Homo sapiens: one gene and its partner. The protein of the gene in region 2 interacts with the protein of the main gene of each other region in a pairwise test. Each region holds a gene or a part of one and is shown on either strand. Other genes may lie near its edges.

Region 1 (7,606 bases), on a different chromosome or scaffold from region 2:
CCCAGCTCTGTGCCACAGCAGGCACCCCCTCACCTGTGCTCCTTCACACCTGAGGGCACATACTTAACTCACCCTACTGTGATCTCCGTCTTCCCCACTACACGGTGGATGACTTCAGGGTAGTGGGTTGCTCATCTGTTTTCCCAACATTGAGGACTATTCCTTATAGATATCAATACATTTTGAAATGACACAATGAGCCAGAGAGCATGGAAAATGACAAGAGCTCAGTTCAACCTCAGAACTGCTACAACAGAAGAGTTACGTAGCGCATTGAGACTGTGCCTTTCGAGTGAGACAGAAAGATACAGACAAGTAAGTAAAGACCTTCTCTTGAGACCTGCCTCCTCCTGTCCCCACTGTTCCAGCTGAGCCAGGTGTCAATGCCCTCCAGATCAAGTAGACAGTTCTGCATGAGCTGTAAGGTGGCACACAGGAGGGCGTGGATGTGCACAGGATATTGCCTGCAACTTCTAAGTAGGAGCAGCAGACAGTAGCAGGGCTGAGAAGATACTTCTAACAGAATCGTAGATTATACTGATACAAAATGAACAAACAACAAAAAAAACAGCCAACAGCTGAAAATTTTTAGAATGGCAGTATAGAAAGGACAAAGCAAGAGAGATGCCAATTACACATAGATTTAGGGGTGTATTTTTTATTGCCCTGTGCTAGACAGTGGACACATGGAAATCAATCAGATATGATCACTGTCCTCAGGAACCCAACAGCATAGTGACAGAGATAGTCTATCACATCATTCTGACATATGCAAGTAAATATAGTAATAGCAGTAATCACTGAGCCACAGAAGTGTGGAGAGTGCTGCCAACTAAGCTTGAGGGAAACACCCATTGACATGATGCCTGAGGCTTGTCTTGAACCATGATTCAGAGTTAATTAGCTGAGAAGAGACCCTTCAACAAGAACAAAGGCGAGAGAGGTAGGAAGCCACGTGGAGCACAGGGAAGATGAAGCAGTCGGTGTTGCTGCAGCATTAACCGTGTGGCAGGAAGTCAGGCAGTGGGAGGCAGGGCTCCAGGACGCAGGAGGCCTTAGGGCACACGATGGGAGGCCTGGAGTTCCTCCTCAGGACAACAGGGAAATGGCTCGGGGTTCATACACGAGTTACCTTTCTTCAACTTAACACATCAAAATGTCCTAGGTAACATTCTCCTAAATCGTAAGATTAGATACACAGTTGTGCTGTAATAAGGGATTTAAGTCAAGGATGGACTCTGCTTAACTGGGGATGAAACTTCTTAAAAACCTTTTCTTGAGACCTGTCTTCTCCCTGCCCCTACTGTTCCAGCTCAGAGTCAGGTGTCAAGCCCTGTGACTCTCCTGAGGACAGTGCTCACAGCTGAGGAGAAGGGCTGAGCCGAGTAGGGCTGCACAGTGGCAGGTGGCACCCACTGCAAAAGCAGCCCCATCCATGACTCACAAAATTCTGACATGTCCAAATCTTAGAAACCACATGAATCCTAATTCCACGCATTTCCAAACATCACTCACTGGGCGGGAAAGTAATTATTTTATAAGTTACCTGTGTGTTCCCCCTTATCTACAGACCTCTCACCCAAATGTATGGGGGCCTTACTCAAGGAGAGTCCCTCTTGGTGAACCCTTTGATTATTTTTAACGTTTGTAGTTGAGTTAAAATCTCTCCCATACTGACTACATTCATAGAGCTTCTCTTCAGTATGAATTTTCTGGTGTTGAAGGAAGTTTGACCTCTGAATAAAGCCTTTCCCACAATAACTGCACACATAGGGCTTTTCTCCAGTGTGAATAATCTGGTGCAGAAGCAGCTTGGAGCTCTGGATGAAGGCTTTCCCACAGTCTTTACATTCGAAGGGCCTGTCCCCAGAGTGGATCTTCTGGTGCTCAGTGAGATGGGCTTTCTGGAGAAACGCTTTCCCACATTCCTTACATTCATACACTCTCTCTCCAGTGTGGATTTTCTGGTGTCGAATAAGGTATGAACTCAGAAAGAAAGCTTTCCCACACTCGTTACATTCATAGAGTTTCTCTCCAGTGTGAATTCTCTGATGCTGGGTGAAGTTTGACGTCTGGCTGAAGCGCTTCCCACACTCATTGCATACGTAAGGCCTCTCCCCAGTATGGATCCTCTGATGCTGAATGAGCTTTGAACTCCGAATAAAGGCTTTCCCACACTCATTGCATTCAAAGGGTCTCTCTCCGGTGTGAATTCTCTGGTGTTCAATAAGGTCTGAGCGATGACGGAATGCCTTCCCACATTCTTTGCATTCATACTGTTTCACTTCTGTGTGGATCTGATAATGGCGAATGAGGCTCGAGCTCCTTATGAAGGATTTCCCACATTCATTGCACTCATAGGGCCTTTCTCCCGTGTGAATCCTCTGATGGCGAATAAGTAAGGAGCTCTGACTGAAGCCTTTCCCACACTCTTTGCATTCAAAAGGTCTCTCTCTGGTGTGAACTCTCTGGTGCCTAATCAGGTCTGAACTGTGACAAAACGCCTTCCCACACTGCGCACATTTGAAGGGCTTTTCTCCTGAATGAACGCGCTGATGCTCAATGAGACCTGAATAGTGAATGAAGTCTTTCCCACACACATTACAGACGTAGAGTCTCTCTCCAGTGTGAATTCTCTGATGCTCCATAAGGTGTGAGCTCTGGCCAAAGCCTTTCCCACACTGATCGCACGTGTAAGGTTTCTCCCCAGCATGCGAAATCCGATGCCTAACTAGGTCCGAATTAAACGTGAAGGTTTTGCCACAGATATCGCAAGGATTGGCTTCCCCCTCTATGAGCTCTCTCTGAAGCAGAAGAAGGTCTGAGTTCAGAATATGGTTTCTTCCTGACTTGGTGCACACTTGAGCTGTCTCTCCTGTCTGGATCTTCCAATGGGTCACTGTCACCTGCTTGCAGCCCCTGTCCTGAGAGGGGGAACTCCCCAGGCTCTGACCTTCTGGATTTCCCAAGAGCTCCCCTAATCTGGGCTCGTGGACTTCCTCAGACTCGGGAGAGGGGAGCTCCATCACCGTGAGTCTGTCTGACGTCGTCCTATGTGAGTTTTCATCCTCAGAAATCCAGGCTTCAGTCACCTTCTTCTCACCAGTTCCTACATTAGAATCTGAAACAAAAGACAACAAAATCATCTTTCCCCTTACTTAACAGATGGGGATCTCCTGAATCAGGGCAGGATAAAATCCATATCCAAGAGGTGGAAAGTGTTTCCTCTGCCCCTCATCCTGACCCAACATGCTGCTACCCACAGCTCTGGTCTCACACCCAAGCCTGTCCCACATAAGATGGCTTCTTTGTGGCTCCACTTTTAACATCCAACACCAGGACAGACTGGTCTGTGGTGCACAACACTCCTCTGACCATTAGTGAATCCTGGATGAGTTGCAGAGGGGTGGGGATATGCTTGAACTCCATTAAAAAACCGAGACAGATACTTTAAACAAACGTATAAACACATCAGCCCTGCCACCTCTTCACTGTTCCTCATTCCTTCCTTCATGTCCTCTTCTCCCCTCCATACCTAGCTTAGAGCCCATGATCTGGGGCACTGTGTTCACTGTAAGTTGCATGAGAATCACCCTCCTGCACAGAATCGGGCTCCCCTGCCCTTTCCTCCCTCCATGATACTTGGATGGGAAAGCCCAACCTTTGGTTAAAACGAGGTTGTGTTTTGATTTGTGCCTGCACTCTTGCTGTTTTTTTGTTTGTTTTTGTTTTTTTTTTTTTTAGATGGAGTCTCGCTCTGTCACCCAGGCTGGAGTGCAGTGGTGCAATCTCGGCTCACTGCAAGTTCTGCCTCCTGGGTTCACACCATTCTCCTGCCTCAGCCTCCCAAGCAGCTGGGACTACAGGCGCCCGCCACCACGCCCGGCTAATTTTTTTGTATTTTTAGTAGAGACGGGGTTTTACCGTGTTAGCCAGGATGGTCTCGATCTCCTGACCTCGTGATCTGCCCGCCTCGGCCTCCCAAACTGCTGGGATTACAGACGTGAGCCACCACATCCAGCCAGCTGACTGAGCTCTTTAAATTCAGAGCTGCTTGCCTAATGGGGCCTGAGAGCTGCCAGCAACTCCTACCCTTCCCACTCCCCACAGGACCTTCCACTTCTCCTATCTTCTTACAAACTCAGCACTCCCTCCTCCCTCCCCACTGGTGACCTTGCTTCTTGTTTCAATGAGAAAACAGAAGAAATCAGGCAAGGACATCCACTGCCTCCCACGTCTCCTGCCAGCCTGTATCTCCACCCATCCTCTGCCAGGCTTGTTACCTGGGTTAAACTGCCCTTGTTCTGACTTAAAGGCAACACTTCCACTTGTGTGTGAGCTCCCTTTCCCTCTCACACATGCAGGGACAGCACCTGAGCACCCATCCCTCTCCTCCATCCTGAAGTCCTTGCCCTCCAAGCCCACCACTCCCCTCAGCATGAAGAAGTGCGCCAGTTCCCAGCGACCTGAAAAATGCACGTCATGGGCCCCATGTCCCACCAATTACTACCCCATGACTCTCCTCCTCCGCAGCCCCATTCAAAGAGCCCCCACCCCACGCTCGATTTCTCCATTTCCTCCTTCCCCTGAGCCTACTACAGTAGGGCTCTCACCCCAAACATCCACGTCACCATATCAGGGGTCAGCTATGGCCACACTTCCAACTCAACCTGCGGTGGCACTGACACAGCCCCGCTCCTTCAGAAGTCACTCTCCTTATGTGAATCTGGGACAGCCTTTCTCTGTTCCCTACCCGCCTCACTGATAGCTCCTCCCAGTGTCCCCTGACGCCTCAAAGCCCTGGCGTGTCTAGGGCTCAGCCCTCATCTCTGTCCATTACAGAGGGGAGTGCACTCATTATCAGACACCAACGCCATCTATGCTGAACACTCACATGCCTGCCTCCAACCTGGCCTTCTTTCCAGCCCCAACACCTGACCAGCTCCTCACCCAACACCTTCATTTGGATGCTCTCAGAAGTTTTTCAACCCTAATGCGTCCAGCCTCACTTCTGATTTTCCTCCTTCTATAGTTTTCTCCATTATCTCATTTGTTCAGGCCACAGACACTGCAATAACCCTTGAATCCTCTTCCCTTTGTTCACACTCCACATCTGTTCAAAACCATGCCCAGCGCCAGACGCCCACAGCCTACAGGGCTGCCATCTGCACCATCGCCTTTCACCATGAAGCGTGACCACCTCCCACCTGCTTACTTCTCCCCTTCTCCAGCTCTTTTCTACACAGCCAGCAGAATTACGCTTTAAAATCATAAATCAGATGTCACTTTTCTACTCAAAACTGACAAAGGTTTCCCATCCCCTACTCTGGCCCCACAAGGGCCACTGGGCCTGGACTCCTGCTGCTCACCCTGCCCTCCCCTTCCCTCTTCTTTGGTCACACTGGCCCCTGCAGTCCCTGCCCCCTCGGAGCCTTTGCACTTTCGTAGAAAGACTCCAAAGATATTTGCAGGGTTCACTCCTAGATGTCCTTCAGGTGTCTGTGTTGACGTCACCTGATCAGAGTCCCTCCTAGTCACACTATAAAACAGCAAGGCTGGCTGGGCATGGTGGCTCACGCCTGTAATCCCAGCACTTTGGGAGGCAGAGGCGGGCGGACCACGAGGTCAGGAGATCGAGACCATCCTGGCTAACACACTGAAACCCCATCTCTACCAAAAATACAAAAAAAATTAGCCGGGCGTGGCGGCAGGCGCCTGTAGTCCCAGCTACTTGGGAGGCTGAAGCAGGAGAATGGCCTGAACCCAGGAGGCGGAGCTTGCAGTGAGCCAAAATTGTGCCACTGCACTCCAGCCTGAGTGACAGAGCAAGACGCCGTCTCAAAAAACGAAACAAAACAAAAAAAAAAAAAACAGCAAGGCACCCCCACCCTCAGCATGCCCTCTCTCCTGCCTCTGCTTTCTCTGCACAGTTCTGACCACTTGACCAATCATAAGTCACCCAATCAAAGCAGCCATCGACTGCGAGATGTGACACAATTTTATGAACCATGAAGGAAAATAAAAGTACCAATTTAAATGAAAACACTCCATCAAGCCAGGCACAGTGGCTCACTCCTGTAATCCTAAGACTTTGGGAGGCAGAGGTGGGAGGGTCACTTGAGACCAGGAGTTCAACGTCTGCCTGGGCAAGGTAGAAAGATCCCATCTCTACAAAAAACATTTTTAAAAACAGCCAGGCAAGGTAGCACACCTGTGGTTCCAACTACATGGGAGACTGAGGCAGGAGAATCACTTGAGCCCAGGAAGTTGAGACTGCAGTGAGCCGTGCTTGTGCCACTGCATTCCAGCCTGGGTGACAGAGCAAAACCCTGTCTCAAACAACAACAAAAAACACTCCATCAATTCTAACAGGCAACTCAATTTCAGAGACATTAAAATATGGAGAAAGTGTATCTTAGAATCAATGAATTGTGATATATACATGCATGCACACACACACACACACACACACGCACACACCCCACAGGCAACAAACTATGTGTTTTGTTGTCTCCCCCACAAGTATGTGAGTGCTGTGTGGGCAGGAACTTTGTTCTGTTCTTTATCCTCAGCAACCCAAACAATTTCTGGCATAAAGTAATACATTTCATCAATATCTGCTGTATGAATGAATGTTCTAATCATGCATACATAATACACTCAATACAAGGTAATAAGCCAGGTACAGTGGCTCATGCCTATAATCCCAGCATTTCCAGTGGCCAAAGCAGGAGGACTACTTGAGGCCAGGAGTCCAAGACCAGCCTGGGCAACATAGCAAGACTCCATCTCTAAAAAACAATTTTTTATTTAGCTGGGTGTGATGTTGCATACCTGTGGTCCCAGCTATTTGGGAGGCTAAGTCAGGAGGATCACTTGAGCCCAGAGGTTTGAGGCTGTAGTAAGCCATGACTATGCCATGGAACTCCAACCTAGGTGACAGAGTGAGACCCTGTCTCTAATTAAAAAAAAAGCTCCAACACTTCTAGTATTAAACACTGAAATAAATGTGAGTTATACATACCTTACCTTAAAGAAAGATTAACAGTGCTTGCTACAGCTCTTTTAGAATGTCTAGCAGGTTTCTCAGTTTTTACTGGAAAATCTCCCATAAAAAAAAAAATTAAGAAAAACAAGATAATTATTTACCCACTTATTTTAATGCACGGTTCTGGGTAGCTGGAGCCTATCCTGGCAGCTCAGGGTGCGAGGTGAGAACCAGCCCCGGATAGGACAGGGTCCCACCACAGGGCAACTCACACACCCAAACTCGCTCATGCTGGGACCAAGGAGACACCCCAATTCACCTAATGGACACATCTTTGGGACGTGGAGGAAAGCAGGCGGCCGTGGGGAGAATGTGCACACTCCACACATGGTGCTCCCAGCCAGGAATCACTTTTTCCCTCATAGATGTTATAACGAAACAATGATATCTGAGGCTCTGCCATGGAAAGGGGGGAAGCCAGAATCCACTCTCTGAAAGCAGAGACCAAAGGAACAGTGACTGCTTTGAGAGAAAGTTTCTTTCTTGGCGCCTGCACTTTACCAGCCTCAAGTCTGAGGATTTGTCTTTTTTTTTTTTTTGAGATGGAGTCTCGATCTG
Region 2 (8,212 bases):
GAAGGTGATAGGGTCCTGGAGATGGCTGCTGGTGATGCTGGCACAATATGAATGTACTTAATGCCACTGAACTATGTACCCCCAAATGGTTAAGATGGCAAAATAGACATGATGAATATTTCTGCACAATTTAAAGAAAGAAAAAGTGAGGGTGATGTGGGGGTGCTGGCTGCACTAGATGGTAAAACATAAGAGAGTCTTGCAGACAAGACCCAACGCAGAGGGGAAGTGAGTGCCTGAGTGGGCGTGTGGAGTACCAGTGGGAACTAGACGACCCTTCCAGGATGGGACTGGGACCTCTGCTGCCATCTGGATCCTGCCTCATTCTTGACATCAAAGAACTCCAAATGGGCCAAAGGTATCATGTAACAGTTAAAATAAGAAATTACTTAAAGAAAATATTGTCCACCTCATTTATCATCTCAGGGAGACAAAGTCCTTTTAAAGTATGGCAATAACCACTGAGGCCCAAATCCAACTTGAGTTTCTGCTCTAGAAAACTTACGCATAGTCTAAAACCACCATAGACAAAAATGACAAAGCAAATGACAAAATGTAGATCGTCTGCAACAGAAATCGCAGAGGTCTACTATCTCACCAAGAAGCTCTTCCTGGATGAACTGTTTGCTGAGCAAGAAATAGAAATAACCCTCAACACACAAAAAGATGTACCAGCTTGTTGTCATAAGAGAATGCCAATTAAGATTGTAATGAGATGTCATTTTCACCTATTAGGCTGTCAAAAAACCCCAACAAGGCCGGGCGTGGTGGCTCACGCCTGTAAACCCAGCACTTTGGTAGACTGAGGCGGATGGATCACATGGTCAGGCGTTCAAGACCAGCCTGGCCAATATGGTGAAACCCCGTCTCTACTGAAAAAACAAAAATTAGCCGAGTGTGGTGGCACGTGCCTGTAGTCCCAGCTACTCAGGAGGCTGAGGCAGGAGAATCGCTTGATCTCAGGATGCAGAGGTTGCAGTGAGCTGAGACTGCGCCACTGCACTCCAGCCTGGGCGACAGAGTGAGACTCTGTCACCAAAAAAAAACCAAACAAACAAAAAAAACCAACAACTTTAGTGCAGACTAAAGCGGCCAGTGTGGATGGAGCAGGCCTTCTCTGGGTCATCTTTATCAGTCTAAAATAAGCCATCCTTTCCCCAGCTGTGATGGTGTGTTTCATGTGTTAGCTTGGCTAGGCTCGAGTCCCCAGTGATTCCATCAAACACGAATCTAGGTATTGCTGCGGAGGTATTCTGTAGATGTGGGTAACATGTGTAACCCACTGACTTTAAGTGAAGGAGACCATTCTCAATGATGTGGATGGGCCTCATCCAATCAGTTGAGGGTCTTAAGAAGAAAAATGAGGTTTCCCTAAAAAGAAGAAATTCCGCCTGTGGACTCAGCCTTAGCTCCTGCTGCAATTTCTGGCCTGCTCTTCCTGCTGGCCTGCCCTGGGATTTTGGACTTGCCAGCTCCCAAAATGGCAGAAGCCAATTCCTTGAAATATACATATATTTCTTTCTTTCCTTCTGTTTTTTGTTTTGTTTTGTTTTTTGTTTGTTTGTTTGTTTTGAGATGGAGTCTCGCTCTGTCACCCAGGCTGGAGTGCAGTGGTGTGATCTTGGCTCACTGCAACCTCTGCCTCCCAGGTTCGAGCAATTCTCATATCTCAGCTTCCCAAGTAGCTGGGACTATAGGCATGGGCCACCATGCACAGCTAATTTTTTTGTATTTTTAGTAGAGACCGGGTTTCGCCATGTTGGCCAGGCTGGTCTCAAACTCCTGGCCTCAAGAGATCCACCCACCTCAGCCTTCCAGAGTGCCGGGATTACAGGCATGAGCCACCATGCCTGGCTGAAATATACTTCTTTACATACATATATCTGTGGTTCTGTTTCCCTGCACAATCCTAATATACCAGGAATCTCATTTCTAGGAATTGATGCTTCCAGATACATGATATACAAACAAACCTATTCACAGCAACACACCTGCATTAGCAAAAGACTGCAAACAAACTGTTCGCTTAAAGGGAGCTGGCTCAATATACCACATCCATAAAATGGGATACTCAGCAGCCATTGAAAAGAACAAGGCAGCCCCATCAGAACTGAGGCAGAACAATCTCCCAGGTACAGCAAAAGAGGCAGGGTACAGAGCAGCACGTCCACTCCTCTGCTAACCTTTGTGTAAAAACCATTATAAAATGTATATGCATGGGAGCTTTTGAGTGCATGAGTCAGCCTCGGAGGACAGAAATGAACCCGGAGAAGGGCTGCTTCTGTCCAGGGAGCTGCTTGGCTCGGAGACTCCTCTGCCATTGTCACTCATCCTATTGTTTGGATTCTGTGCATGTATATGCCTCACCTACTCTCAAGGTAACTGTTCATTCTAGGAGGCAGTGGAAGCAGCGGACAGGTGTGAGCTTGGCTGCAGGAGAAGCTGATGTGCATGCCTGTCTTCCCCTTAACTGGCTTCACTCACGTGCATGCAGCTCCCAGTGTCTGGAGGAATGGATGTTGACCCTCGGTTTAGAGCCTTGCTCCTCCAAGTGTGGCCTCTATCCAGTAGTATGGTGACCCCTGAGAGCCCGTTAGAAATGCAGAGGCCAGGCATGGTGGCTCACGCCTGTAATCCCAGCACTTTGGGAGGCCGAGGCAGGCAGATCACTTGAGGTCAGGAGTTCAAGACCAGCCTGGCCAACATGGTAAAAGTCCATCTCTACTAAAAATAGAAAAAATAGCTAGGCATGGTGGCAAGGTAAGCCTGTAATCCCAGCTACTTGGGAGGCTGAGGCAGGTGAATTGCTTGAACCCAGGATGTAGAGGTTGCAGTGAGCTGAGATTGTGCCACTGCACTCCAGCCTGGGTAATGGAGTGAGACTCGGTTTCAAAAAAAAAAAAAAAAGAAAGGCAGAATCTCAGCTTCATCCTGACCTGCAATCAGCATCTGCATTTCCACAAGATCCCAGGAGGCCTCTGTGCTGGGTGGAGTTTGAGAGGCCCTGCTTTAAAGCATCCAAATAGTAAGGCAATGGGGACATCTGATAAACCGAGAGATTACAATTTGCTTTACCTCCTCAGGTGTTTACACATCCCAAGGGCTCTACCTGAGTTGTGTCTGTGTTCACTGCCTCCTTCCCTAGGATGAATTAGATTGTACTTCAGGTTAACTGAATCGTGCAGTATCAACCAAAGCATGTGTCTACGCGATAGCTTCCATTTAGTCTGCTACCATTGCATTCCAATGCTGCACTAAGGAAATTGTTGTAAACCAGAAATAAAATCCTATGCCTTCCAGCCAACTCAACAGACCCCCTCTTGGCCAAGTGGACCCCAGAGAAACCTGAAAATCTGAATTCCTGGCCGTAACAGGAAGAGAAGCCAGGCCCTTTTGGAGTTTAGGTTGAAATTGAGATCATAAGGTTGGCCAAAAAGACTCTGGAGTAGTAAGATACCATATTATAAAGTCATGTGAGGCAGGGGTTAAGTCACACACACCCCACAAACCATGAAATCTCCTTGGATGAGTTTCCATGAACTCAGTATAAAATGGCTTACTTTCCAACCCGACTCTGGTATAGCATCACAAGACAGATTGCAGACCCTAAAGGAAATACAAATATTTTACCTAAAAATATATTTTGTGGACATATTTTGAAACGGCTGTAACAGGACCAACAGATTGAAATGGCCCTGCCATGTTTTGTGGGGGGGGAATTTGCACCTGTAGAGAATCTCCATTAATGCAGTCAGACCTCTCCCCTTCTAGGCCTTCCCTGAATCTAGGAGAGATTAACTGAGAGCCTGCTGCCTCTAAGGCCTGAAAAGAAACATTTACCATTTATTCTCTCTGAAGGCTGCTACCCAGAGTCTTCATCTACATACCTTTGGCCTCTAACACTGCCTTAACTCAGGCATTTCTTTCTATTGATGTCAAGTTTGTAGACAAAGTTTAACTCTTTCAAGCAATCGTCAACCAGAAAATCTCTGAACCCACCTATGACCGGTAAGCTCCCCCTCCTTCAAGGTGTCCTGCCTCTTTAGGGAGGGCAAGTACACCTCCCATGTATTGATTTATGATTTTACCTACAATTCCTGCCTCTCTGAAATGTATAAAATCAAACTGCATCCTGACAGCCTCAGGCACACTTCCTCAGGACCTCCTGAGACTGTTCCCAGAGCCATGGTCCCTCATATTTGGCTCAGAATAAACCTCTTTCAAATATTTTAACAGAGTTTGGTTTTTCCATTAGCAATCCATTATCATCATCCACACTCGTCTCCTGGAATATGCACTAGAATCTATGAGGAGACACCATTTTACAAAGAAAGCTGAGGCTCAGAGAGGTTAAGTAACTTGGCCAGAGCTAGACAGCCATCAAAACCAGATGTCACTGGCTCTAAGCCACCATCTCTCTGTCTGAGGTTGAGCTGCTTCTACGAAGGCGATATGGTTTGGCTCTGTGTCCCCACCCAAATCTCATCTTGAATTGTACTCCCATAATTCCCACCTGTTGTGGGAGGGACTCAGGGGGAGATAACTGAATCATGGGGGCAGTTTCTCCAATACTGTTCTCATGGTAGTGAGTAACTCTCATGAGATCTGATGGTTTGATAAGGGGAAACCCCTTTCACTTGGCTCTCATTCTCTCTCTTGCCACCGCCGCCAGGTAAGAAGTGCCCATTGCCTTCTGCCGTGATGGTAGAAGGCCTCCCCAGCCATGTGGAACTGTAAGTCCGTTAAACCTCTTTCTTTTGTAAATTGCCCAGTCTCAGGTATGTCTTTATCAGCAGCATGAAAATGGACTAATACAGGAGGCTAACAAGGAGGTAAACGACAGAGCTGACCAACGTCACCTACAGAGAGAGCAAGACTAAAGAGAGAGGCGTTCAGAAGAAAAGGAAAGAATGGAAGCTGGCATCCTGAACCACGCGAAGACGTACCTGGTGATAGGCCATCAGGTGCTGAAAGATCTCCTCCATGGAAGAGTCTGTTGCCGAGCTGGACTGGAAAGCCCCAAAATCCCAGGATTTCTTCTTCTTTTCTTCTTCCAGCTCCTTCTCTCTGACCTTCTGCAATGCACCCCTGTATACCTGGTCCTGGCAGTAGACAATCTGTTCCATCTGGAAGTGGAGGCGGATCAGCTTCTCACCTTCTCTCTCTTGTTCTGCTCTAATGTCTTCAATTTTGGACTACAGTAAAAAATAAATAAATACAGTTTCCCTCAAGACACAAATTCCTGAGTCACAGGAAAGTAGGTAAGAAGTCCGTAAATACCAGGTTACCCAACGTGAGTGAAACAGCACGTTTCCTGGAACAGCCCTCTGGGCCGCGCCCTGGTGTATCTAAGGCAGGTTTCTAGCCCTGGCTGAGGGTCAGAGCTTCCCAGGAGGCTTGAGCCACAGATGGGCCGGACCCCCATCCCGGGGCCTGGGGACCTGCACAGGCTTGCTTTCAGGCCCCGTAACTCAGCTTCTTTCCTTTCTCTTTTAGGGGCTTCTATATCTGATGGCGAGGATTGTCATATCCATCAGATAATCCACAGGGATGAGCAGGAAAGCCATGTTTAAGTCAGAAAATTATGTTTTATGTTCCCGGGGTTTAGAGAAACTGGTTGCCAAAACCTGAGGAGGAGAAACTTCACCCCTGGACCCTCCAGGCCTTGAGGAGAGGCACAGTGCACAGTGGCAGGTGCATCCTAAACATCTTACTCCACGTCCATCTCAACCTTCTGAGGAAGGCCTTATCAGTCTTCTTTTATGAATGAGGAGTCAGGGGCACAGGCTGGAAGTGGCACATCCCAAGGCCTCCAGCTGGTGAATCATGGGGCCAGGCTCCTCATCTGTGCCGGGGACACCTATTTCTAAGAGTGGCTAAGTCTGGTCTCTTGGCCCAGTCTGTCCCCCAGGCTCATTTCCTGTAGGCTCTTTCCTCACTCTGGATGGAAAGTTTTTTTGTTTGTTTTTTTTTTTTTTTTTGAGACGGGGTCTCGCTCCATCGCCTAGGCTAGAGTGCAGTGATGCAATGTTGGCTCACTGCAACTTCCACCTCCTGGGCTCAATCAATTCTAAAGTGTCAGCCTCCCAAGTAGCTGGGATTACAGGCATGCACCACCACGTCCAGCTACTTTTTTGTATTTTTAGTAGAGATGGGGTTTTGCCATGTGGGCCAGGCTGGTCTCAAACTCCTGGCTTTAAGTCATCTACCGGCCTCAGCCTCCCAAAGTGCTGGGATTACAGGCTCATCATGCCCACTCGGGCCAGAAATATTCTATTTTTATATGTAGTTTCCTCAGTGAGTTTCTGGATTTGGAGCCATTGCCCTTAGATGTGATAATCTTCTCCGCTAACTGTGGATCTCTTGTTCTGTGCGTTTAAGCACTCCCTCCTTTATTGCTTTTAACCAGACATCACCGGTAACATCAGAAGAAGCACTAGTGAGTGATGTTATTTGCTGTTCTAAAAGTATACAATAAAGTTGAAATAATCCTCATCCAAGAAATCTATTTTCTAGTGTCAAGCTTAATTTCTTTTCTTTTTTTTTTTTAAACAACACATGGTTGGTTTTACCTTGGCGGTTCTGTGGAGGTTAAAAAACTCTTCAAAATTTTTTATCGAAACATCTGTGAAAGCAAGCCGGACCATATCTAATCAAAGAGAGAAAAATAGTTCAATATTGGTAGGATCATTTGTTCTCTTCTTAAGATGCAAAAAAATATGAGGATCAAATGGTATGAAGTAAAGTTTCCCCTCTCCCCGCTCCCTTCTTCTCTTTACCATGAAAAAGCAAGGCATGCTCTTTTTGCTTAATAATTTGCTGGAAGAATCTTAAAAGCAAATGACCCCTGGCATACATTTATTTGATATTTAAACTTTTTATCCTAAATAGCTGCAAAGAATGTAATTTCTTTTAAATTATAAATATTAATATTTTATAATACAACTCTTAATATAAGTCAAATCACTCTTAAATATATCAATGGAATTTGAGTGTCTACATTATCCATTTGAAAAAAATACAAGAACAAGCTCTTAGATTAAAAAATTTATATTATTTATCTTTTATTTTTGAAACTCATTTCTATTCTACTTCCTCACAGAATTTTATTGTAATACAAGGTATAGTATCTTTATGATTGAAAACCTCTTATTGATCTCCATGTCATACATTTCTGAAAAAGAAATAGGTATATCTATGTTGATTTTTATGACTATAAGGCTCTAAGTATTATAAACTTTCCTCTGGAATGAGTTAAGAGTCTACAATGGACCAAAACAACATGATTGCAGGTTTTGGTATATGATTATCAGGGCTAAAAGGTCAATTTTACTGGAAATACACCTCTGAATGAGCTGTTCTGAGGCTATCTCCAGCTCCTTAGTTCATGGATCCATGAGTGATTATTAATTACTGCTAAGATGAGGCAGCTGAAGTGTGAGTAAGGATACTGTCAGTCAAGGAGAGGATGAAGAATAGAGATTTAATACCTGGAAAACCAAGAAAGCAAAGCATTTCAAGAAGGGAGTGGATCCACAGTAGGATCTAGTTTCCTACCTATCCGTGACACACCTAGATTCCTACAGCACTCCAAAAGGTTCCAAACACATCTACACGTGCAGTTATGGAACCATTGGCTTTACTCCTCGGAGATTTCAAATAAACAGCCGATTTTGAGTGTGAAGCCAGCATAGCAGTGGAGCAGGGGGGAGGTGTGGTGTGATAGGAAAAATATAAATATTTTGTCTTTGTCCCCATTTCCTAACATAGAGCCCCTACATCTCTTGGAATGTCCAGCCTTAGGAGTATCTCGTGTTTTGAAGAGATGATGCCTGGTGGGCCCCTACATAGCTTCAGGATTGGGGCCGGGCACTAGAAAGACCAAGCCTTGGCTAGAAACTTAGAACTTCCAGCTCCACAGAGGAGGGAGGGCCTGGAGATTGAGTCAATCCTCCATCATGCCTTCATGATGAGGCCTCCATAAAACCTTCTCCGCGGTGAGGTTCCAAGAGCTCCCTGGTTGATGACCACATCTCTGTGCCATGAGGATGGTGCCCCCAACCCCGTGGGGACAGAAGCTTCTGTGTTCAGGCCCCTACTATGTGCCTCTCCAACAGCTTCATTTGTGCCCCTTATCAAATCCTTTCTAATAGACCAGTAAATGTCAGTGAAGTGTGTTCCAGAGTTCTTGGTTGACCTGAGGAATGGGTCG

The links. The genes of interacting proteins can lie anywhere in the genome.
Region 1: the proteins of MX1 (region 2) and ZNF623 interact in a two-hybrid assay, tested with the Homo sapiens proteins (one study listed by BioGRID).

What each region holds. Positions count from the first base shown.
Region 1 is NC_000008.11:143,645,413-143,653,018, reverse strand, and holds part of ZNF623 (zinc finger protein 623), read right to left. Parts: exon of another isoform or gene 6,212-7,606; intron 4,917-6,211; exon of another isoform or gene 4,614-4,916; intron 3,236-4,613; exon of another isoform or gene 3,147-3,235; coding exon of another isoform or gene 3,027-3,146; coding exon 1,536-3,026; 3' UTR 1-1,535. UniProt on the Homo sapiens protein: May be involved in transcriptional regulation.
Region 2 is NC_000021.9:41,449,604-41,457,815, reverse strand, and holds part of MX1 (interferon-induced GTP-binding protein Mx1), read right to left. Parts: intron 6,650-8,212; coding exon 6,573-6,649; intron 5,196-6,572; coding exon 4,947-5,195; intron 1-4,946.